Homo sapiens: one gene and its partners. The protein of the gene in region 2 purifies or fractionates together with the protein of the main gene of each other region. This does not show direct contact. Each region holds a gene or a part of one and is shown on either strand. Other genes may lie near its edges.

Evidence for each region.
Region 1: the proteins of DUSP7 (region 2) and ATP2A1 purify together in Homo sapiens (affinity purification with mass spectrometry, with the first as the bait; one large-scale study listed by BioGRID). This does not show direct contact.
Region 3: the proteins of DUSP7 (region 2) and ATP2B1 purify together in Homo sapiens (affinity purification with mass spectrometry, with the first as the bait; one large-scale study listed by BioGRID). This does not show direct contact.
Region 4: the proteins of DUSP7 (region 2) and ALG1 purify together in Homo sapiens (affinity purification with mass spectrometry, with the first as the bait; one large-scale study listed by BioGRID). This does not show direct contact.
Region 5: the proteins of DUSP7 (region 2) and FAR1 purify together in Homo sapiens (affinity purification with mass spectrometry, with the first as the bait; one large-scale study listed by BioGRID). This does not show direct contact.
Region 6: the proteins of DUSP7 (region 2) and ACSL1 purify together in Homo sapiens (affinity purification with mass spectrometry, with the first as the bait; one large-scale study listed by BioGRID). This does not show direct contact.
Region 7: the proteins of DUSP7 (region 2) and ERLIN1 purify together in Homo sapiens (affinity purification with mass spectrometry, with the first as the bait; one large-scale study listed by BioGRID). This does not show direct contact.

Annotation. Positions count from the first base shown.
Region 1 is NC_000016.10:28,891,988-28,895,487, reverse strand, and holds part of ATP2A1 (sarcoplasmic/endoplasmic reticulum calcium ATPase 1), read right to left. Parts: intron 1,334-3,500; coding exon 1,245-1,333; intron 984-1,244; coding exon 881-983; intron 667-880; coding exon 535-666; intron 1-534. UniProt on the Homo sapiens protein: Key regulator of striated muscle performance by acting as the major Ca(2+) ATPase responsible for the reuptake of cytosolic Ca(2+) into the sarcoplasmic reticulum.
Region 2 is NC_000003.12:52,050,996-52,053,571, forward strand, and holds part of DUSP7 (dual specificity protein phosphatase 7), read right to left. Parts: intron 128-2,576; coding exon 1-127. UniProt on the Homo sapiens protein: Dual specificity protein phosphatase. Shows high activity towards MAPK1/ERK2. Also has lower activity towards MAPK14 and MAPK8. In arrested oocytes, plays a role in meiotic resumption.
Region 3 is NC_000012.12:89,587,549-89,590,693, forward strand, and holds the end of ATP2B1 (plasma membrane calcium-transporting ATPase 1), read right to left. Parts: 3' UTR 501-3,145; downstream 1-500. UniProt on the Homo sapiens protein: Catalyzes the hydrolysis of ATP coupled with the transport of calcium from the cytoplasm to the extracellular space thereby maintaining intracellular calcium homeostasis.
Region 4 is NC_000016.10:5,078,343-5,081,842, forward strand, and holds part of ALG1 (chitobiosyldiphosphodolichol beta-mannosyltransferase), read left to right. Parts: intron 1-414; coding exon 415-536; intron 537-721; coding exon 722-760; exon of another isoform or gene 761-764; intron 765-1,405; coding exon 1,406-1,465; intron 1,466-2,603; coding exon 2,604-2,714; intron 2,715-3,500. UniProt on the Homo sapiens protein: Mannosyltransferase that operates in the biosynthetic pathway of dolichol-linked oligosaccharides, the glycan precursors employed in protein asparagine (N)-glycosylation.
Region 5 is NC_000011.10:13,671,668-13,675,167, reverse strand, and holds part of FAR1 (fatty acyl-CoA reductase 1), read right to left. Parts: intron 1-3,500. UniProt on the Homo sapiens protein: Catalyzes the reduction of saturated and unsaturated C16 or C18 fatty acyl-CoA to fatty alcohols. It plays an essential role in the production of ether lipids/plasmalogens which synthesis requires fatty alcohols.
Region 6 is NC_000004.12:184,815,969-184,819,468, reverse strand, and holds part of ACSL1 (long-chain-fatty-acid--CoA ligase 1), read left to right. Parts: intron 1-3,500. UniProt on the Homo sapiens protein: Catalyzes the conversion of long-chain fatty acids to their active form acyl-CoAs for both synthesis of cellular lipids, and degradation via beta-oxidation. Preferentially uses palmitoleate, oleate and linoleate.
Region 7 is NC_000010.11:100,183,230-100,187,157, forward strand, and holds the start of ERLIN1 (erlin-1), read right to left. Parts: upstream 2,801-3,928; 5' UTR 2,398-2,800; coding exon 2,285-2,397; intron 609-2,284; coding exon 527-608; intron 1-526. UniProt on the Homo sapiens protein: Component of the ERLIN1/ERLIN2 complex which mediates the endoplasmic reticulum-associated degradation (ERAD) of inositol 1,4,5-trisphosphate receptors (IP3Rs).

The DNA of each region.
Region 1 (3,500 bases), on a different chromosome or scaffold from region 2:
GAGAGAAAGAGAGAAATGTGGGGAATATAATTCCCCAGAGAGAAGTGCTTAATGGAGACGTTCAGCAAGTATCAATAGCAATAACTGGGAGTGACAGTCCTAGAAGTGGCCGGGTTCATCTGGGCAAGGAAAGGCTTTCCCTATAGGTGCAGTAGCCACATTTCCCAAATCCTAAGTCAGGACTCATCATCTGCTGAAAACAAGTGTGCTTCTAGAAACAAAGGAATAACAGATGAAGTTGGGGCTGCTCCTGGATGGGTCCCTTGTGGTTTCCGTGTCCAGCTTTGTCCACTTCAAATCAGGACACAGCGGGCAGAAGTGATCATAGATTCATCAAGGGCATGGCCGCCAGGCAGCCCCAGGGACAATGGGTCCCACCCACATCAGCCTGTGGAGAAGCTGCAGGGGCTGTCTGCTGCCTGGGTGGGGTCCCAGCACAGGCACTAGGCTCTGCCCAACCAGGGCCTCTGCCTTCCTCTAGTCTATGCAGCATAGAGTGGAGACGGCCCTGTGGCAGGGGCTCCGCAGGCTCACCGAGTTGCAGGCGTTGGCTCTCTCCACCTTCGAGAGGCTTCTCACATCCGTGTTGAACACATTCATCTTCTCCACCAGGGTGGTGAGTGCTGTCTCGGTGGCCTCGCCGACCTTCTCATAGACACCTTTGGCCTGAGATGGGCAGAGGAGGAAGAGGAAGTCGGTGCCCCAGGCTCCTACCTGTCATACCCTCCTTCCACCTAGCGTAAGAAGGAAGCAAACCACTGCCTCCCTTGCACCCTGGCAGAGGGCTGGGTGTACTGGGTCCCCTTCCTCCAACCCTTTCCTCCTGGCCTTCGGAGGAGGCCCAGACTCTGAGCCAACTGGAAGGGGAAGGAGAGGTTACCTCGTTGAAGTCCAAGGAGGAGTCATTGCAGAGGGCACAGATGGTGGCCAGCTCCACCAGCCCGTCATACTGCCCTGGCCGGACTGGCTTATCATTCTTCAAGCTGGCAGCAGGGTCAGGGGAGGAAGGGACAGAGACAGTGGAGAAGAACAGGGAATGAGATGCAGAGAGGGCACAGGAAGAGCAGGCAGCAGAGGGTAAGGAAGGACAGTGGGGAGAGCCAACTCGGATATCAGGAGAGAGAACAAGGTCGGGGAGGAAGAGGAGAGTGAAAGGAGAGCAAAACCACATGGAGGGCCCCAGGGAGAAAGGGGGTGTGGGAAGGGGCGTGAGGAGCTGGGGAGAAGATGCCTGGGTGACTTACACCTCTCCCTCTGGAGCGTAAGTGGAGCCGGTGATGGAGAACTCATTCAGGAGGCAGATGTCCCCATCCACCTTGTCAATGATAAACATCTGCAGGGGAGAAGGGCAGGCACACAGATGTCCACCTCTTCCCATCCCAAGGTGGGCACCTGCATCAAGGGAGGCCTGCACTGCCAACACCTACCTTCCCACCATTTCCCTCCTACTCACCCCTCCTCATCCCCCCCGTATACCCTACCCACTTCCCACCAAGCTGTTGCAATCATTCTCTATCAACAGCCTTAAAACAATAGTTACTGAGGCTGGGCGAGGTGGCTCACACCTGTAATCCCAGCACTTTAGGAGGCTGAGGTGGGCGGATCACCTGTCAGGAGTGCAAGACCATCCTGGCCAACATGATGAAACCGTCTCTACTAAAAATACAAAAATTAGCCAGGTGTGGTGGTGCGCGCCTGTAATCCCAGCTACTCTGGAGGCTGAGGCAGGAGAATCGCTTGAACCTGGGAGGCAGAGGTTTCAGTGAGCCAGGATCGTGCCATTACACTCCAGCCTGGGCGACAAGAGCCAAACTCAAAAAAAAAAAAAAAAACAAAAAAAAACCCACAAACGAGTGACCGCAGGCTGTGCTGTGCTGGAGCTTCTGTAGACCAGTTAATAAAATAAGATGGAACACAATAAGGTATGGTGGGGACTGTGGCAAACAGCCCAACTATTGGCACCTGGACCATCTACAGCTCCAGCTGCATGTGGCCAGATCTTCCAGTTTTGCAGGAAGAGCTAGAAATTCAGGTTATCTTCCTATGAAATCTCTTGACTTTTTCTTTTTCTTTTTGTTTTTTAAGATAGGTTCTTGCTCTGTTGCCCAGGCTGGAGTACAGTGGTGTGATCATAGCTCATTGCAGCCTCAACCTCCCGGGCTCAAGTGATCCTCCCACCTCAGCCTACCCAAGTAGTTGGGGCCACAGGCACATGCCACCATGCCTGTCTCTCTTGCTCTCTCTCTCTCTCTTTTTTTTTTTTTTTGGTAGAAATTGGGTCTCACTATGTTGCCCAGGCTGGTTTTGAACTCCTGGGCTCAAGTGATCTTCCTGCCTTGGCCTCCCAAAGTGCTGGGAGTACAGGCACCCACCATGATGCTGGGAGTACAGGCAACTACCATGCCCAGCCTCTTGACTTTCAAATATATGGGCAATTCTTTTTTTTTTTTTTGGAGATGCAGTTTCACTCTTGTTGCCCAGGCTGGTGCAATCTCGGCTAACTGCAACCTCCGCCTCCTGGGTTCAAGTGATTCTCCTGCCTCAGCCTCCAGAGTAGCTGGGAGTACAGGCATACGCCACCACGCCCAGCTAATTTTGTATTTTTAGTAGAGACGGAATTTCGCCATGTTGGCCAGGCTGGTCCCGAACTCCTGACCTCAGGTGATCCACTCACCTTGGCCTCCCAAAGTGCTGGGATTACAGGCGTGAGAATTAATTCATTTTTATGAAACATGACAGGAGCCAAGTCACACGAGCCTGTGGTCTGGCTTTGTGGCCTGTGCGTTAGAGGGATGTGGAGAACGCAGTGCCCAGGAGGAGTGGCCTACCCTGAATCCTGGGCAAACGCAACAGAGACTGGGCTTTTCATTCCCGAGAAGAGAGATGGTTAAGATGGGTTCCAAGACAAAAAAGTTCTGTGGTCAGAAAAAAAACTTGGGAACCTCTGGGGCAAAGCAGAATCCGTCTTCTTTACACAGTCAGCCTCCTCTAAGGCTTTCAAATAGCAGCAGATGTTGTGGGTCTCGCCCAGGAGCCAAGGTTACAGCCTTTCTCACCCTGATCTGACCACACAGCCCTTGCTTCTCAGAACAGCAATTTCTAGTTCATGGGTGTAGTCTTCCACAAAACTCTGTGAAGGGCAGGGGTTCTTGGCCTGAGGTCAGTGGAAGACCCTGCAAGGAGCCCAAGAACTGAGATAGCCAAGAAAAAAACGACAGCTTTTCTTGTTCTCAAGCTGACGTTTGACATTTCCTTCCAGTTATGCATGTTGTCAACAGACCACATTAGTATTAGCAAAACCTGTGACTGTCACCAATTTAATCACAGATACTTTCCTCCTATCACATTACCACTGTTGCAGATCTCTCAAAATAGCATAATTTATGCTCACCACTGCTTCAACATTATGATAGTGCTTAGACCCACTGCGAGAACTCCCTAATTAATGCCTTAATAAAGAAGCATGTGTGTTGCCAAATTACAAAGTTGTTTTTAAAAAT
Region 2 (2,576 bases):
AAGTCGTAGGCGTCGTTGAGTGACAGGTTCATCTTCTGCATCAGATAGGCCACAGTGACCGTCACTGAGCGGCTGATGCCTGCCAGGCAGTGCACCAGGACACCACACTTCTTGGAGCGGGCTTCGTCTGAAACACATTGGCATGGGTCAGGGAGGTGCCTCCTTCAAGGAGCCTTCCCACATGGGTGGGCAGGTGGGGCTGGGGCACAGAGGGCAGCATGGTGGCTGGCTGGTCTTGCCCGACCCCTGAGGGACCTGGCCAAGCCCAGTGTGGGTAGGGCAGCAACTTGGAATAGAGGTCAACAGCACTGCTGTGGAGAGGGCTCTGCACACTTTAGCCCCAAGGCACTGGACACCCGTGTCTGTTTCCTCATCTATAAAATGGGCCTATTTATGCACAGTGGTCTCATAAGGACCTGAGCCAAGTGAGGGGTCAACAAACATGAACTACTGTAATGCCTGTGATCATGGCTAGTCCTACCACTGCCATGTGCGTTAACGACTGCTGTCACGGGTGTCACCTGCATCCTCTTGGGTCATCTGCACCATGGCCAGTAAGCCCATTTTATCAACGAGGAAACAGACACAGAGACAAAGTGGCAAGCCCAAGGCCACACAGAAGCTCCTCCTAGCTCAGCGCCCGCTGCTGCCAGGCCATGACCTGGGACTGGGGGCTGGGCTGGTTCTCTTGGAGCCGCTCCCATGGGTTGTCCCTGAGAGTCTTCTAGGAAAGTGGCCTGAGGGAGGCTCCTCTGGAAGGAAGTAGGTGGCCTGGCCCTGCATTTCGCTCTGCCATCTGCCCAGCTAGTCCCCAAGGCCTTAACTCCAGCTCCTAAGACACATGGACTGGGATGATGGCCACACTATCACTTGTGATGGGGCTTCATAAGTGAGGTGTGCTTAAATGGGCCCCACCCCTGCCACTTGCTAGACCTTCCTCAGGAGGCCCATGTGTCAGTGATATCTCCTACCACAGCTGACTGGATGGGGCCAACCTTCCTGTCCCCTTTCCCCTCCAACCCTCCCAGCTTCCCCCAGTGCCACCCTCAGACTCCTCTGTCTGACACATAGAAGCTCAATAAATACTGGCCGAGCTACTGAACAACTCAGTCCTGTAATCTCTCCTGGACCCCGGGGCAGCTGCCTCTCTGTGTGCCACAGCTGTGCCAGGGACATAGATTCACAAGAGGCAGCCATGGGGTCCTTGATGTCCCCACCACCCTGACTCTGAACCCTCCAGGAGCCAGGCACACAGCTAGCACGCAATCAATGCCTTCCTACAAGATGACATACGGGTTCACCCACTGTTCTTCGTTGCCTTTGTCCTGACAGAGCTTCCTCTCCCATCCCCTCCCAACCAAGGAGTAAAGCATACAGTAGGTGCTTCCTCCAGACTCAGGGACTGACAGGGGGCCCCATGGCTAAGGCACTGGGGCAGGATCATCTGGCAAGGAGACAGACATTGCAGCTTCATGAGGAGCTGTGTGGTCAGACCTCGAGATTGGGGGTGGGAAAAGGGGGTGCTGGGACCAGCCTCCAGTGGTGACACCAGGATGTGAGGAACGCCTGGCCTCCAAACCCACCTCCAGGTGATCCAAAGACAGTCTGTTTCTGCTGGCTTTATTTTTGGCCTTTTCAGGGTGTAGCTGGTGACTGATCCTGTCCCACTGACTCCTAAGGGATGCCTGGGCCTCAATTCCTTCACTTGTCAAATGAGGAAAAAGGTCCCCCTACCCAGACGGGGAGGAGCTTTCAGGAAGGATAAAGGTACCCACTAGCCAGGCCCAGCCTGGCGAAGCCTGCTTCCCTCTCTCTATTCCCCTCCCTCGTTGGGGGAGTTCAAATGCTGAGGCAGCACCCCTAGCCCTCTTGACCCAGGGGGTGGTGGGCAGGGCTGAGAAGCTCCAGGCAGCCCCAGTTGCAGCCCCTCCCCCAGGCCTCAGCTTCCTTCCTTCCTCCCAGCCAGGCACCTACTTTTGGTTCCCAGTAAGCGGATGAGGCGGGGAAGCCTCCCACTTCCTGTTGTTAAAGCTAGCCCAGCCCAGCCGACACCAAAACGCCCTCCACTGGACACAGCCACCATCGGGAAAAGACAGCCCGGGCCACCCCCACACCTTGCCACTGGAGGCTGGGCAGAAACATTGGGTCACCAGGCTCAGAGATAGAGCGTTTACATTCATCCTGAGCCCTCGTGCCCCTTCCTTGCACCCTGGGCCAGGGGAGATGACCTGTGGTCTCAGCCTCCAGCTGGCCAAGGAGAAAGCAGTGGGGACCCGAGTCTGCTGAGGCTGGGGATACAGGGACTCGAAGGGCACTAAGCCAGACAGCAGGACACACTGCTCTGGGGAAGGCCTTTCTCCACTCCCCCACCTTCTCTTGCACTCCTCCCTACACTCCAAGCAAGCCCTACAGGCTGCAGAGAGCATCTGGAGGCTGACTGAGCTAGCAGTCACCACATTTCAATAGCTGCCTGTTTGGGGTGTGCCTCTGGCTCCAGGGCTACCTTTCAGCCCTCTTAGGTCCACATTAAAGCCCAAAGAGGCACTATGACAACCCCATCCTGGAGAGACACGTGT
Region 3 (3,145 bases), on a different chromosome or scaffold from region 2:
AATAATTTACTAATGATTTATACTAACTGAAAAATATGGTATTCATCATCATTTAAAGTTTACTCAGTATTTCAACAAAGTTGCTAGTTTATATTAATAACTTATTATAAAAAACAACTATGGATAATTTTATTAATTTTTACCATAGAGTTCAGATAACTGGTATTGACAAGTATGGATAATGAAATAAAAATAAGCTCTTACAGCTAATGTGAAAAACTAATCTGTACTAAAACCAGCAGATTACATTCCCATAGACTGCAGAAATGATCTATTGTGCTATAAGGGTTGAGGACAGTGGGTTGGAGAGTAGGGACAATGTACCCACTCTCATTTTAGAGGCAAGATCATGCATATTATTAGAAGAGTGATTCACTGTAACACAACCATAACATTTCAAGTACATTATAGAATTTTCAATTAGATTTCTAAAATTTCAAGTAGAAAAAATTCCAAAATATTTTCAAATCAATATCAATATCCAAAAAGTTCAGTCCCCATTCAGAAACAGATAAACAGTATATTTATTAAATGAGTTAAGACAAATAAACTTTACAAATAGACAAATAATAAAAGGCTCAGTGGCTAAAATAGATGGTAAGCATCATTGAAAGAAATCAACACCATCACGGTATCTCAGTTGGCTTACACGTGTAAAAAGAAATTTTCAAAGAGCAATTTCACAGAAATGAAGCCAGTTTTTTTCTTATAAACAAATCACCAATTCTTGGTTCAAAACTGACATCTGTTATGAAAATTACCATATCACATATTTGTAAGATGACAAGGAGTAACTCATCTTCAAAGTGCAAGTAAGTCTATTTACAACCACAAAAAAGGCAATGATGAGGAGAAAAGGATTTTTAAAAAATATACAAAGATTAAAAACATTTGGGATGCAAAATTAAACAATTTTTTGGTTAGAGGATAAAAGAGAAAAAGTGATTGAATTACAGATTTCAGCTATACATACTATATAATGGGATCCAAGATCTTTAACAGCTTGCTTGCATTTTTTTCTACCTACATAATGCTCTGGAAATTTCTGGTAGAAATTACAGTGTCTCAAAGAGAGAAATACACACTAAGCATGTCTTGCTACTACTTCATAGATGTCATAAGACCCGTTTATGGATTAGAGTTGGTGTAGAAAGCCATTGCCTTGAGTTGAAAAATGAATACTGTAAAAGCTCAATACAAATCCTCCAAAGCACATGCACTTCTAAATCTTTTGGTAATTACATTCATATTTAAGCATAACCAAAATAAAAAAGAAAACTGAAAACATTTCCCTTTTCTCTATTCCCTATGCCTTGTGGGCTCTCCAGTTGATAGGGTCAATTTTTAGAGTTGAAAGGGTTCTTCAAGATAGTCCACCACCCTTATTTAGGGTAAATGATTTTCCCAAGATCATGCAGCACATTAATGGCAAAACCAAGACTAGAAACCAGGTCTTGACTCCTAGTCTAATATGCTTTCCAGCATATCATGCTACCTCTTTTTTACAGTATGATTCACTATAAATACCTGATGAATAAATGTACAATTACAAATGCTGACAGAGCCAATGTGTTTCTAAGACCTGCAGAGGATTACTGCAAAGATTTGATGGTGAGAAAAAGATTTCCCCCACCCACCAAAAATATCAAGCACCATCAACTAAATGTTTCTTTGCTTGGTCAGCACTCTCAGTTATAGTAGCAGTCCTCGTAAACTTTATGTCAGCCTGAGGATTGTGTATCTGGTGAAATCTGGGCCCTAACACATGCCAGTTTCTAAAGGGTAAAGACAGAGGCAAAAAAGAGAAGAAGGTAGATGAAGGAAAGAAAAAGAGAGCTAAAGAATCCAATTGGCTTAGAGGTGGGCATTCTAGCATATGGTTAATTATTGCATCTAAATATATCATTTTAGAACCTTTTCATGTAATCTCATTTTACCTAATCTGTTATTTGGCCACTTAAGAATTAAAATAAATGTATCAAAGACAATGGTGGTCATTGTTGTTATGTTTTTTACCTGTGAGACTATTTTAGACAAACTAAATTCAATGAAGAGTATGTCAAATGGTAAAATTGTGTTAATTTTCTTAATCTGATTCTATTAGATTACCAGCAAGGAATTAAAGCGGTACTTCATGGGGCTGTTACCATCTTGAAATGTATTCCAATTGTGGTCAAAGAGAACAGACTGATGCACTGTATATGCAGAACTGAGTAAAGAAGCTGAAATGTCTTTTAAAAAAACATTGCCATGAATTTATTTAATAAAAGGGCATATTTATTTATGTTTACAAACAAGTTTCAAAAACAAAAGGAAAACATGTATGCTTCTACTTATTAACCTTTTTCAAAATGCCAACAGCCCTCATGCTGTGTGAAGGTCTCTAAAGATTAGAAAAATCAATACAGTTCACTCACAGTTCACCAAGACATCACTAAACTAACATGTTTAGACAAAAACAAAAAAGACTAAGGTTCTCTTGTAGTTTGATAGTCTGATTTAATTTGATTTGCCTGAAATAACAAAAGCATTTCAAGCATCTTTCATTATGTAGTTGATGTCCTGCATTAAACAATCTACTAAATTCTGAACAAAAGGTTATTAGCAAGTTTTCAAAAATTTTAAAAATTAAACAGTTGCTTCAAAACCATTAAGTAGTAAATGTATTTAAGAAACTAATTAGGACAGATGTCATAACTTCATTAGAACACCACTGCTCATGTTTTTTTGTTTTGTTTTGTTTTTTTCGTTTTTTTAAACAAAGCATTAGTGTTATCTATTTGGCTATTAGTATTAGCAATTTATCTACAATATTTAACAAGGTAAATTGTAGGCAAAAATTTAGTACAGTTTCAATAGAAACACCCCTTTTTTTTTTTTTCCTGAAAATACAGCAGTATTTGAAGGACTAATTTTTCTCTGCATCAGTTATAAGGAAGCTTCCCATCTATGAACAGGAACAAAAAAAGTATCTACAAACCTTGTAAACAGATCTGTATCATTTATAAACATAAATAATCCAAATTATTAACAGCCAACAGCAGAAATTAAACTATCAATTCAACGATCCAGGGCTCTTTGTCTTGCCCAGTTTTACTCCTCCCTCTCTCTCCCATCCAGGACTGAGATAAACTAAAGCTCTGCT
Region 4 (3,500 bases), on a different chromosome or scaffold from region 2:
TTCCCAGGCCTGTGGCAGGATCTGTGGACCTGTGTGTCCCCTGGGGTGTCTCATGGGGCTAAGGAGGGGACCTTTGTGCAGGTCTACGCACCCTGAGGTGTGCCCTGGGTAAGCTGGGGTGGTGTGGGAGGGCGTCCCTGCACCCTCATCTTGAGTCCAGGGGATGATAAGACAGTAAGTCCCGTGGAGAAAAGGAATGAGTCAGTCTTGTTTGCTGTTGTAACCTTAGCACCCAGCAACAATATTAGAGAAAGCAAGCCCAGGCCTCAGATGGCAGGGGTGGCCTGGTGCTGCTGATGTGGCTGGGCACCCCAACCTCTGGGAGCCTGCAGGCCTCGCCACGGCAGGAGATGCCTCTCCTGGGTCCCGGGCCTGCTCTATGGCCTCTCACAGGCTTTTTTTCTGCTCCTTCAGCTCAGAACCTGAGGACCCAGTCACGGAGCGGTCGGCCTTCACGGAGCGGGATGCTGGGAGCGGGCTGGTGACGCGTCTCCGTGAGCGGCCAGCCCTGCTGGTCAGCAGCACGAGCTGGACAGGTCTGCAGGACCCCTGGGGCACTTGGGGTTGGTGTGACGGGCACCTGGCCAACCTGTGTTCTCCTCACCCCTGCCAGTCCTGCATGCTCCCACCCTGCCACGGTCTCAATGAGAACGGGAGGGCCTGTGAGCTGGAAGAGGGGTGTCTAGAAACAGGCCCCTGACATTCAATTCTCTTCTCATAGAGGACGAAGACTTCTCCATCCTGCTGGCAGCTTTAGAAAGTAGGTGTGTGGCTGCGGTGAGGAGCTCTGGGCTTGTCGGGGGCCACTGAGCTGTAAGCTGCTTGCCTGGCCTGCAGCATGTTCCTGTCCCAGGCCACTGGGTGGGGCAGCCTGGGGACAGCGGGGGTGGTGGAAGTGGGCCGCCCTGAATCCCCAGTTGGGTCATTGAGTGACCAGGCCCTCAGGCTGAAATGCCCCCTCCAGGAGAGTATCTCACACAGGCTGGTGGCCTCCCCGCCAGAGCAGTGCTCTTTCTCCACCTGACCAGGTGACTCTGGCTATTGTTTATTTAAAAATTTTTTTCTGAATGGGCATGGTGGCTCAAACCTGTAATCCTAGAACTCTGGGAGGCCGAGGCAGGCAGATCATCTGAGGTCAGGAGTTCGAGACCAACCTGGCCAACAGGGCGAAACCTGTCTCTACTAAAAATACAAAAATTAGCTAGGTATGGTGGTGGGCGCCTGTCATCCCAGCTACTTGGGAGGCTGATGCACGAGAATTACTTGAACCCAGGAGGCAGAGGTTGCAGTGAGCTGAGATCGCGCCATTGCATTCCAGCCTGGGTGACAGAGTGAGAGTCTGTCAGAAAAAAAAAAAAATTCTATCAGAAATTCCATGTAGAATTGTTTCTTTTTCTAAACACAGAGTTTGAACAACTGACTCTTGATGGACACAACCTTCCTTCTCTCGTCTGTGTGATAACAGGTACTGCCTGGGACCCTGGGTGTCTGTTTGGTTGGGGGATGGCGGAGGGGGAGGGGCACGCAGCCTTTACCCTGTGCTTCCCATGATCTTGTCTCCTTAATCCTCACTGCAGCTCTGCCATAGGGTCTTATACTGCTTGACATGGGGGAAACTGAGGCTCAGAGGCAGGGCAGGGAGCCCAGATTTGAATCTGTAGATACCAAGCTTTCTACTTTTTCAGTAGTTTCCAAGCATCTTTTTTTTGTTGTTGTTACGTCATTGGTGTCTTTTTTTTTTTTTTTTGAGACAGAGTCTCTGTCGCCCAGGCTGGAGTGCAGTGGTGCGATCTCGGCTCACTGCAACCTCCGCCTCCCACATTCAAGCAATTCTCATGCCCCAGCCTCCCGAGTGGCTGGGACTACAGGTGCCCACCACAACTGCCTAATTTTTGTATTTTTAGTAGAGACAGGGTTTCACCATGTTGGCCAGGCTGGTCTTGAACTCCTGACCTCAGGTGATCCACCCGCCTTGGCCTCCCAATATGCTGGAATTACAGGCACAAATCACTGTGCCCGGCCATGTCATTGGTGCCTTAACCAAGCCTCTTAATTTTTCAAACGGAAGAGCCCCTGTCCCACAGTTACTGCTGCTGAGCCCTTTCAAGGTGACTCAGTGAGGAGGGAGAAAAGCGGAAGCGGTGTGGGAAGAGGCCGGGTCTGGGCCAGCTGCTGGTCCTGCTCTCCTCCCTCCTCTGGCCTCTAGGCTCCCAGGAGTGGTTTGGAACCCGCGCCATATGCTCTGGGGGCTGTGCCAGGGCAGGAGGAGTCCTCGTGTCCCCTGTGCACAACACAGACAAAAGGCTGGGTCCACCCAGTGGGCGGTCGGGTGCCAGGCCAGTGCTTACCCCGCCATGTTTGCAGCCCGAGGCCAGCTGGCTGCAGGTGAAAGGCTATGCGTCAGGGGTCAGGGTGCACACACCCCTGCAGGTCTCAGGGCTCCTGGGTTGCTTCTGGAAGGGCCCGGATGGGGCCTGACTGGAGCTGCTGAGGGGTGGAGCTTCTGGGAAAGGGATCCCTCCTAGGGGGGAGTGTCTTGGGCCTGGGGCCACGTGGCAGGGACAGAGATGGGTCCATGGCAGTGTCTGCTCTTCTCTGTGAAGGCAAAGGGCCTCTGAGGGAGTATTATAGCCGCCTCATCCACCAGAAGCACTTCCAGCACATCCAGGTCTGCACCCCCTGGCTGGAGGCCGAGGACTACCCCCTGCTTCTAGGTGAGAGGCCAGCAGGAGGCTCAGGGAGGAGGCGGGGGGAACAGGGTGGGCGGGATGTACTTTTTCTGAAAAGGTGGCTCTGGAGGCCACTGGGGGACGGGACCTGGGCTCTGGCTGAACTCCCAGGAGGAGGCTACTTCCTGGTGTGCCAGCCCCTCCCTGCCAGGTGGCCCCAGGGGCCGTTTACCAAGGGGTTTGAGGAGGCCACGTCCTTTCAGCCTGCCACGCCCTCCATTCAGTCCTCTTCCTTCCTGCAGGAGGGCTGGGCCTGGGGTTGGGGCCACTGTTGCCCAGGTGTGGGAGGGCAGTGGCTTTGGGAGGTACGGGGACGATGTGTCAAACAGCGTCGCCTCTCCCAGTGAGATGGTTCTCCTTTGCCTCCGTCTCTTTCCCCGTTGATTTCTCCAAGTGGGGAGTCGTGCCTTGGTCCTGATGCGTCTCTAGAGCTGCATCTTCCAGCTTCGAGTGAGCAGAGCAGTTGGAGGCTGAAGGCCTTTTCCTGGCAGGACTCTCCACCTAGTCTTTGTTTTAGACAGTCTCGCTCCGTTGCCTAGGCTGGAGTGCATGATCTCAGTTCATGCAACCTCTGCCTCCTGGGTTCAAGCGATTTTCCCACCTCAGCCTCCCGAGTAGATTACGGGATTACAGGAGCCCACCACAACACCTGGCTTATTTTTGTATTTTTAGTAGAGACAGGGTTTCACCATGTTGGCCAGGCTGGTCTTGAACTCCTGACCTCAAGTGATCCTCCTGCCTTGGCCTTCCTAAGTGCTTGGATTCCAGGTG
Region 5 (3,500 bases), on a different chromosome or scaffold from region 2:
GCTCAAGTCTCAAAATATATTTATATGAACAAATTTGCACCTCACTTGGATTAACATGTCTATTATTATACTTATCACACTGCATGGTAACAACTGGTTAAAAAAAAAAAAAAAGTCTAGGGATTTGCTTCAAAATAAAGAAGGAAGTGGATGGAGGTATGGATGAAGCAAGACTGACCACAAGTTAGTAACTCTTAAAGTTGGTGATGTGTGTATTATTGCTGTCAATTTTCCATAATACAAAGTTTAGAAGCTTGCCTCTCCTACTAGTAAGAGGGCTTCTTAAAGACAAGTTCAAGAGTGTTCTTCTTTGTACATCTATCCAATACAGAACAGACCAATTGAACTTTACTAAACACGTTTCATTCTTTAGGTAGAACTACTTTTCAATGAAACTTCAACATCTTTTTGACGGTACTTTATTTAAAAAATTTTTCATTAGCTCAAATAAAACATATATTCACTCATTCATTATTTTCTGGGTCCCTGCTTCCTAAGATATGCTGTCCTGGTAAATGTAGGATACCAAAAATAATTTATCCTCTCTACTAAATTAAGAAGGGAAAGAAGGAAGATTAAAAGAAAATATTGTAAAATGCAGTAATACAGTTTTTAAGAAAGGCATCTAGGGCATCTATGTTTTTAATTAGAAAGAAGGCATACAACCTATTCAAGGAAGACGGGCTTAAAATTTCTCCTCCCCCTCCATTTTACAGATGAGGAAACTAAAGCCCATAGAGGGGAAGTGACTTGCCTAGCAAGTTACACATCAAGTAGCTAACAAAACCAAAATTAAAGCTCAGATCTGCTGATTCACAGTTCAATTTGAATTTTCTTTTTTTCTTTTTTTTTTTTTTTTGAGACGGAGTCTTGCTCTGTTGTCCAGGCTGGAGTGCAGTGGCGCTATCTTGGCTCACTGCAACCTCTGCCTCCCGGGTTCAAGCAATTCTTTTGCCTCAGCCTCCCGAGTAGCTGGGACTACAGGTGGGCGCCACCACGCCCGGCTAATTTTTGTAGTTTTACTAGATGGGGTTTTCACCATATTGGCCAGGCTGGTATCGAACTCCTGACCTCATGATCCGCCCACCTCGGCCTCCCAAAGTGCTGGGATTACAGGCGTGAGCCACCGCACCCGGCCCAATTTGAATTTTCTACATCATAATGCTTTTCTGTACACTGTAATGTTAACTAATGAAAGAGAATGAGTTATTTTATTGGTAGTATATATTTCAATTATTTATTAAATCATATTTAAAAAAATAATAGGATAAGATGGGGAAGGCTGGGAAGAAAAAGTGCACAACAAATTGGTAAGATACTTATGTGTGAAAACTACAGGCATATGCCATGCTTCATCAATTTTGAGATACATTTAAGACATAGTAACCATTTCACAAACATTTTGAAGTAAATATAGACAATATACATCTTCAAAAAATTCTAAAATATGAAAACATACATCTCTAAAGCAAGAAAATATAAGGTATCCTATTAGACACTAAAAAATCACTGTCATTTATTTAGAGGCAGTGTCACAGAGCACAAACACTCAGAGCAAGAGTCTCATCTTCTAAGGTAACAAATACCTAAGGCTTGTGGCATTTTTTTTCAGTTGAAGGTATAAATCAGTCCTCCGTGCTATTAGTTTCACAAGCATGGAGTTTTGGAGTTAGACAAAGAAAGGTTTGAATCCCAGCTCTGTCACTTAGCTCTCCAACCTTGGAAAGTTACTAACTTCTCTGAGTCTCACTCTCCTCATCTGTAATATGGTATTCACATTTTAGAGAATTATATGAGAATCAAATGTGGTAATTTGTTGAAGGATTATGCTACAGTGCCTAGATGAAATAGGAATCACATTAATATCGTTTCCTCTCAGAATCCCTATGGGCTAAGTGAAATTAAACTAAAAGCTAGATGAATTTACGCAACTCTTTCCTCTCTGTTTAGGAGACTGTAATAAGTCTGTACTGATCCTAGGGCAAATCCTATTGGTTTGGGAATCATTCTTTGAATAAGAAAAGCTTATTTTCTTGACTTCTGTCTCCACTCTTCAAATTGGGAACCGAAAACAATGGTGAATTTATAAGTGTTTAAGTTGATCAGCTATATCTAAATCCAGCACTTCCATTTTGTCTTACTGAACTGAAACTCTAAGCCTGTTGCAAACCCATTAATGAGAGGAACTATAGAACCAATGTGTAGGAAGAAGGATATAAAGCCAAAAGAAGCAGTTAAAATGACACAATTCTATCAGTGGTTTGTTGGGTTTTTTTAAACCTTAAATTCATGTATTAAACTCTAAGAAAACAAGTGTTCAGGAAAACAAAGACTGTATCTCCACCATTCAGGGTGGGTTAGTAACTTGATCCTTCAGGTTAAGCAAATACCACCTTTCAGTACATACAGTTTCAGTTTCCATCAGTGACAATCCAGTCATTTCCAAGATAGGAACACACCTACCAAGGTGGCTCTTACCAAGTAGGGACTGAAATAAGACTATCTTCTCTCCTACCCCAAGTTCAGACTAGCCTACCCACATTTTCCTGAGTATTAGCTCATTTCAGTTGAATGCTTGTCCCCACTAATTATAAAAATAATGCTCACTTTTTTTTTTTTTTTTGAGACAGGGTCTCACTTTGTCACTTAGGCTGGAGTACAGCGGCATGATCAAGGTTCACTGCAGCCTCAACCTCCCAGGCTCCCATCTCAGCCCCCCAAGTAGCTGGGATTACAGGTGTGCACACCACCTTGCCCAACTAATTTTTTTTTTTTTTTTGGATAGAAAAGGGGTTTTGCCATGTTGCCCAGGCTGCTCTTGAACTCTTGAGCTCAGGCGGTCTGCCTGCTCATTTTTTTAAATTTGAAAAAACTAAAAAGTGCAAGCATTTTAAAGCATCCATGATCTTCCAGCCAAAGATTAAAACATTACAAGGGGTCATACCATCATCTTTCCTATGAATCTGACCATAACTGTGAAAATATTTAAATTTGTATAGAGTACCTGCCACTAAACACAATTAACTACCAGCCCAAACATTAATATCTTCATTCCAGCTTTCTTGTGACTAAATTCACATTACTTTTTTACTTACTTAACTCAATGGTTTCTTCTCAATCGTTCTGAGTCTCTCAGCTATATACTTTGTTGCTAACCACCACCTCTTTAAAACTCTATCCCAGGTTTCTCTAAACAGTGTATTCCTCAGTATCTACAGAAATCTCTCCAACTAATCTTTTTCTTTCTTCACTGGCTCTTCTTACATAAACTGACAATCTCTAGAAAATAGATGAGGTCTGACTTGAATTTTCTTGTCAATATTGAACACCCAGCACTTACTACAGTGCCTGGCATCAAGCAGATGCTCAATTAACATTTACTGACTGATTCTGCCAATCCTGACCTGTCCCCTCCTAGCTGTGTGACCTTGGGCAAGTTATATCTCTCTGAGTCTTATCTCCCTCATCTATAAAATACAGATAATCAGAAGATGAGATAA
Region 6 (3,500 bases), on a different chromosome or scaffold from region 2:
GATAAAGTTTGTGTTGAGTACATCTAGGCTGGGTGTGGTAGCTCACGCCTGTAATCTCAGCACTTTGGGAGGCCAAGGCAGGTGGATCATCTGAGGTCAGGAGTTCGAGACCAGCCTGGACAACATGGTGAAACCCTGTCTCTGCTAAAAATACAAAAATTAGCCAGGTGTGGTGGCAGGCGCCTGTAATCCCAGCTACTCAGGAGGCTGAGGCAGGAGAATCCCTTGAGCCTGGGAGGCAGAGGTTGCAGTGAGCCAAGATCGTGCCATTGCACTCCAGCCTGGGGTATAGAGTGAGGCTCTGTCTCCAAAAAAAAAAAAAAAAAAAGTACATCTAAATGGTACGATGCCCATGTTGGCCTATTTGGAATGCCATTCCTTGTCCCACAGAGCCCTGCTCCTCAGAGGCACTTTTCCTGGAGTGACTCTCCCCTTCCTCACCTACACTCACTGTCATTCAGCTGTAGATGCACCAGCGATCATGCTAGTGGTTAAAATATCGAAATACTCCCATCCTGGCTAGAGAATAGCTGCTACCCAAGTGCCCCCGCCCTTCATATGGAAACTAAAGGGTTAATACATGGGGCAGTAGAGGAACTTTGGAGCCCTGTTTTGGTGCACTGGCCTGTGTCTTTTCTGGCTGGTTGGTGTCTGGCCGTACTGGCTATTAAATATTTTGATGAGCATCCCAGCCTCTGTCCCACGTGCATCTTTTCATGAGTGCATATCTGGCTTCCACAGATTGGCACCCCAGCCACACTCTAAGCTCTGGGCACATGGGAGACCTAGTCATTGTCATCTCTGTGTTTTCAGCAGCGTTTAATACAGGGCCTTACCGCTAGTAAGCATGTAAGATTATCTAATGATGGATTGAGGGTAGGGCAGGTTCCGATGGTCAGATGTCCCATAGAAGGTGGTCCCTAACAAGAATATACATTGTAATGTTCCAGGTTTGTCTATTCTGATACTGTGCAAAACGTAGATCTTATAGCCAAGATCAAGGCATCGAAAGTCTGTGGACCTAAGCCTGTGCTTTCACTGAGTGAAGTTTGTGTTTCGGAGTACATCTGAGGTGTTTCTTTCCGTGTAGTTTCACTTGTGTTGGAGAAGCAGGTGGCTGTGGTCTTTGCAGGGTGTGAGAGGGGAGGAGATTAGTGTTGAGCTCCAGCTAATGTTACATAACTCTACTGTAGTCTTCCTTTACCTGGTATTCTTGTGTTCAAATTGCCCCTTGTTTCTGTGCCACTAGTGAAATGGTCAAATGGCTCATTGTTCCTTCTGTAGGACAGTTACCTACATTGCGCCTCAGGCAAGCTTCTGAGGCATCCCAGGATGGGGAGCTGGCGGGGGACCTTATCTGTCAAGCAGCCCAGCCAGGCACCTCACAGTGGACGGAACTGAGTTCTTGAGGGGGTGGCTGAGCAGCCCAGACTCCCAGGTTAGACTCTGAAGACAGCCAGTCTGTGCTTTTCTCTCCTGATGTGAGTCAGAGGCAAACTCTGCCGATGCCAAGACCTCCCTAGAGTTCAGGCAGGGTGAAGATCCTTGTCCTTGGGGTCAGGGCTGAAGCTTCAGGGTGTCCAGGACAGACCTTCAGAGGAGGCCAGCCCTGGAGCCTGGCGTGGGTCTCGGCCTCAAGCCTCTCTGTCCTGCAGAGAGGCCGGCTCAGTCTCTTCACCCTCTCAGGCAGGCCAGGCGACGGTCACCAGTAGCGTCCTGCTCTCTCTGGCATGCTTCCCTTCATCACTGGGTGATGCTGAGTGTCTTTTCCTCCCTCTTTGATGTGACAGTCCCTTTTTGCAGGCTTTTGCAGGCACTGTCCCTCTGCCTCCCAGGTGTGGCACGCATTTCAGGGTGCCTCCATTAGCAGTTTCATGCATTGTTGCCCATGGTGGGGAACAGATGGAGACACAAGGCAGGCAAGCCACCAAAGAGGCTGCAGGGCTGCTCAGGAGATGGAAGGACTGTCTCCAGAGTGGGGTGTATGCCCCATAGTGGCTGCCTAGACCATCCATTAGATTGTAGAATAGAATAGAAACATTAGAACTTCTATGGATAGTTATTTTTTGGCCATCTTTTAAATTCATATTTGTGTGTTTTCTAATGGTCAGAAAATACTTGTATATGGTTTATAGATAAAAGCATTTAATGTGAGGGGTGCATTTATTTATTGGGGTACATCATCAGAAGTCTAGAGAACCAGAAAGTTAACTCCTTCTCTAGCACCAGTATCATGAGAGACCTCTGAATGCCATTTTTTAAAAAGGAAAGAATTTGTCAATTAAAGGGGAATAGAAACTGCTCTCTGGCTAGGTTGTGATTCATGTCAAATAGGCCTGTGACTTAAGGAGAGTCAGGTTAACTCCAGAGTATGTTTTGTCTCTGGTCCCAAAACTTAGCAGTGTGGAAGCCTCATTGGGATCAGGGTTTTATTTTTTTCTCTTTTGTTTACTATCATATCCCCTGAGGCTGGAGCTGACTTGCATATCCTCAATATTTGCAAATTGAATATATGGGCGTTTTTCTTGCATGATAATTAAGTATTATGCTGAGTTGGATGCTTCAAGTCAATATTCAGGTTGCCTCCTTTTGTTTAAACCTTTGGGCAGTTGGCAAGATGCAGCCTACATGCCAGTCAGTTTTACTGTCCTGCACATGATACCCCCACGCGGTAGAACCATAGAGCCGTGGAGGCCTCAGAAATGTCACCTGAGAGACAGGGTGTTGGGATGTAACTTAAAGTAATTTTTTAAGAAGTGGGTATAATGAAACAGCAAAACGTTGATCATTACTGAAGCTGAAGTTGGAGTCACGGGTACATAAAATATAGTTTTATTATACTTCTGTGTCTACTTTTGAATAGATTTGAATTTTCATAATAAATTTTAAGTGAAACATAAAGGGAATATAGAGACCCCAAACTAGTATCACCCATTCCGAGCAGGTAATGGCCGAACTGCATAGTCTCTTTTTCTTTCTGTCTTTTAAACACTGGTCATTATTCTATAATCTTCTGCAACTTGTTAGGTTTGTTTTGATTTTGGCTTCCCCAGAGCCAGTCACCTCTTTTTATAGTTACCTGAGCTCTTTGTGTAATTTTAGCTCATGTCTCGTGGTTGTCACCAGTACCTCTCTTCTCCTTCCCAATACGATGAGCTAAATCCTGGTTAACCTTTTCCCTATTTCACTTGTTGCTTCCTCCAACACCACTGAGGTCTTCCACATGACAGGCACAATTCAGAGGCCAGAACAGGGTCCCATGTTTTTTGCAGGCTGCGTCCAGTCCTGGGGAACCTCATAGCCTGTGATTATCTTCTAGATTCCATTCATGTCTGCTTTTTTTTTTTTCTTTTGGATGGCGTCTCTGTTGTCCAGGCTGGAGCGCAGTGGTGCCATCTTGGCTCACTGCCGCTGCGCCCCCCACAGGTTCAATCGACTCTCCTGCCTCAGCCTCCGAGTAGCCGGGACTACAGGTGTGTGCCATCACGCCTGGCTAATTT
Region 7 (3,928 bases), on a different chromosome or scaffold from region 2:
ATTAGACACTTATTTCAAATATCCCGGGATGCCATCAAAATATAACATTCACTAAGGTTCCACATAAAATTGTGCTTAATATACCAGGCAAAAAAACATGAGGCAGAAAGGCTGTGTATAAAAATTTTGATCCTCCATGTTAACAGTAGCCCAGGAGCCTGCCTCTATGGAAACTAAACACTGTTCTAAACCACATAATCACTGGTTTGTATGTCTAGTTGTGTTTCTAATTCTTACTTTTATTGTGACAGCAGCAACAGAAAATTTGCTATATACCACGATATAGATGGTAGAAGTCAGTCCTTCCAAGCTTCCTGGTTCATACCTTTAATTCATTTCAAGTAAGTGAGGTGGTTTAACATCATAACTTGTGTTGTAACAACTGTACTCTGAACGTTAACTTCTGCATTTAAGTAAATACCACCATCTGCTTAAGCAATAAGGAAATCTATCTCCACCCACAAGTGTGGTAACTCCTGTCATGCCTGTCTATCTGGTATGGAGGCTTCCCCTAGGAATCACTCACCTGCACAGATCTGAACGTAGTAATGAAAGGCAACATGATATGATAGCCTGGTCCACTGGGGCTAGTTAGTAAAGCTCCTCCCCTGCAAAAAGATGTTTCAATTTGACAAAATTATAAAAAGAAAAATTATCTTTCCAAATCTAAAATGCTATAATAAATACTCACTCTTGCTCATGCTGCTGACCTACTAAAGCCTCACTAATATGAATTGCTCATAATGAACAACTGCTTAAAATACCTCCACACCTAAAAAGGGAAAAAGATCAAATTAAACTGCCAATGTTACACCTTGTTTCATAAGCTCAACCAACCGTACCTCTGGGTCTCCAGCACTGCTCTAAGGTTCAAAGGATTCTCCTCGGTCTTTAACCTTCTGAGAAATATTTGTTTAAAAAATTCTAATGGCTTTCAGTAGAGGTACATTAATAGTACATAACAAGAGCCAAATCAAAATATATAATACATTTAATCACCAGGTTGAAAAAAAGACAATGCAAACTTTGAAGTAAAGAGAAAATTTCTGAGGCTTATAATTCTTTCGATCTATCTACAAGGTAATTAAAATACTGGGAACATAAAATTTCTATATAAAAACAAAAAATTAGCATGAAAAGATGAAGGGTGACAAGACTATACAAATAAATAGCATAAGGGCTTGTTAACCAAATCCTGGAATGTGAAAACTATGAAAGCAAGCCCTGGAAATTATAAAAAGGAGGCATTTGGGGAGCAAAGAAAACAAAGTCCTATTTTGCACCTTGTAAATTCATAGAACTTAGCTACCGGTCTTGAAAATATAAACACATTTGCAAGGTCATAATAACAAGGAAAGATGAACTGTTTGAGGTTCATTACTAATTCTTTGAGTCATTCCTTGAAATGTCCTTTCTCTGGTTTTACTGTCAGAAAGACAATGCTTTTAAACTGGAAGGAAATCTGGACTAATCTGTAATTTCTTATGTAGAGCTCCATCTGCTAAGATATACCATTAAAATTGCTCTTTTTCTAGGATTCAGGATGGATTTGAAAGTAGAAATATCAGTTTTGAGGGATAGTGGAAACAAGCAAAAAGTTGACGCTCTTTTTGAATACACCATTATCCCAATTTCTCCACAAACTGGCCTCTCTTACTAGTCTGTATCAAAAGGAACTTGTGGTAATTAGGCTGAAGGAAAAGCTAAGCGAGCTCAACAAGAGAGCAACAGCTCCCACACCACTCCTGTCCCCAACTTGAACAGCAACAGTAAGGAGGGAGGAGCATGGCCCATCAGTGTTGTGCTTATGTCCCTGGAGGTCCAGGGACATAAGCACCATCACAGTCATCATGGTGTTACAAGACGTAACCAGACACTGGAAGCTTTTAAATGAAAAAGTCTAAGAAACAACCATAAACATACAGCATCTACAGCGGCAAACTAAAGCCTGTACAGTTGAACGAACTATAATTTATCCATCTCTTCAGTTAGAGGTAGAGTGACTACTTCCTTTCTTCCTTCTTCATTTTTCTACAAATAATTGAGTTTGCTGTGTATAGGAATAACCGTAGGGAGACTTAATCTCTGCAACAAAACGAACATAGCACTAAAACTGTCCAACATCTGGAGGGTGCTCCGCAAAAGCCCGCTTCGACCCCCGTGCTCTCCCTAGAGATGGGACATGCGCCCCCGAACGTTGCAGAGGGAACAACTTCCCAGACTCCACTCTGGAGTACCCTTTTAATCTGCTCTAGAGCCCTAACTGACTGCACATGCCGCTCACCTGTAGTACACAGCCAGATGGCCCTCCTCAATCTTGTGGATGGAGGCGTAGAGCAGGACAGCCACCAACCCCACCACTGCAGCCACCAGAACCCGGGCTTGAGTCATATTCATTCTCGTTCCTCCTGGGAGCGGGAGAAAAGGACCCTCAGTCCCGTGAGTGACAGGTCCACCCCCTCCAGTTTCTACCCTCTCCCTCCGGAAACTTGGCGCTCTCTCGCAGGCTGAGCCGGGGAGTCCAGTACCCCTGTCCCCTCATTCTTCCCTTCTGGCTGAGCCCGCTGACCCCTTGCCAACTCCTCCGCCCCCGGAGGCCAGTGGGCCGCCCCTGCTCGGTGAGCTTCCTGAAACTCCCTCTCCCAAGGGTCGCTCCCGGGTGGAAGGCACTAACTGAGAAGAAGCCCAGCCGCAGGCTCGCGAGGAAAGCCGACCCCTCGGCCGCGCCTCACCGATCAGTGACGCATCGCCCCCGCCCGCACGTGCAGCCGACTCCCGCGCCGAGCCAACCGCCGCCAACAGCCGGCCCCGCCCACTCGCCCAGCACTGCGGCTGCGCGGGGACGCACACGGCGTAGCCCCGGCCCGCGGCTAGTGAGACGGGGAGCGCATGGGACAAAATTCTCCTAGCCGCGGGCCGCGCAGGCTCCTTTGGAGGCAAGTCGCTTTCTGTACACTGCTGGTTAACTGCTTCGGAAGAGGACAGCCCGCAGTCTGGAGTGAGCAGCGAAGCAGAGAAAAGGAGACGCCCTTTCGGACAAGGGACTGGTTGGTTTGTTCTTGTGCAGAGAACCCACTCGCTCACTCTCAAACGGTAGCTGTTCGGTTTATTTGTCCTTTTGCAGTGTATGCGGAGCCCCACTGTGTGGCACGCACTTGCTTCCGGCAGAGATCCTGCCCTTCAGGAGCAACTAAACTTGTTGCAAATAAAGTGCTGTGAAAGTTCAGAAGAGGAAGATATTAGATATAACGGCATCATTCTCTCGTTTTTTAAGTGTTCCTATTATGTGCCAGAATGCTGGTCCAGTGAGGGCTTTATGAAGGCCATCCAGACTACAGGAACAGAATTGCTAAGCACATGGGGCGGGAGGCGGAGGGAATCCTCCAGGGAGACCAAAGTAAGTACTTCAGTTTCCTTGAAGGCTTGTGTGATGGGAAGGAGTGCTATGGTAGGCGTCACTACATATTCTGTTCGTTTTAAATTAAAAAACCATGGGCACATATTGCCAAAAATAAAAAAGGGAAGGAAAAAGGTATAGTTGGGAGATAGATGAATACAAGAGAAATTAAGGACATTAATGGTTTAAGCCTTGAAAGGCTAGAGGTGGAACTATAACTGGACAAGGTGGACTAGGGTTGTAAAGTCCTCTAACCCAGCGGACGGGGTGGGGGTGTGTGTGGGTTGGGGATGAAACTGTTCCACTTCAGATCATCAGGCATTAGATTCTCACAGGGAGCCGGCAAACCTCACATGTGCAGTTCACAATAGGGTTCGCGTGCCTATGAGAATCTGATGCCACTCGCTAATCTGACAGCAGGCAGAGCTCAAGGCGATAATGCTCACTCGCCCGCCGCTCACCTCCTGCTATCCGGCTTGGTTCCTAACAGGCCACTGTCTGGTTCCGGTCCGCGGCCCAGGGCTTGGGGAC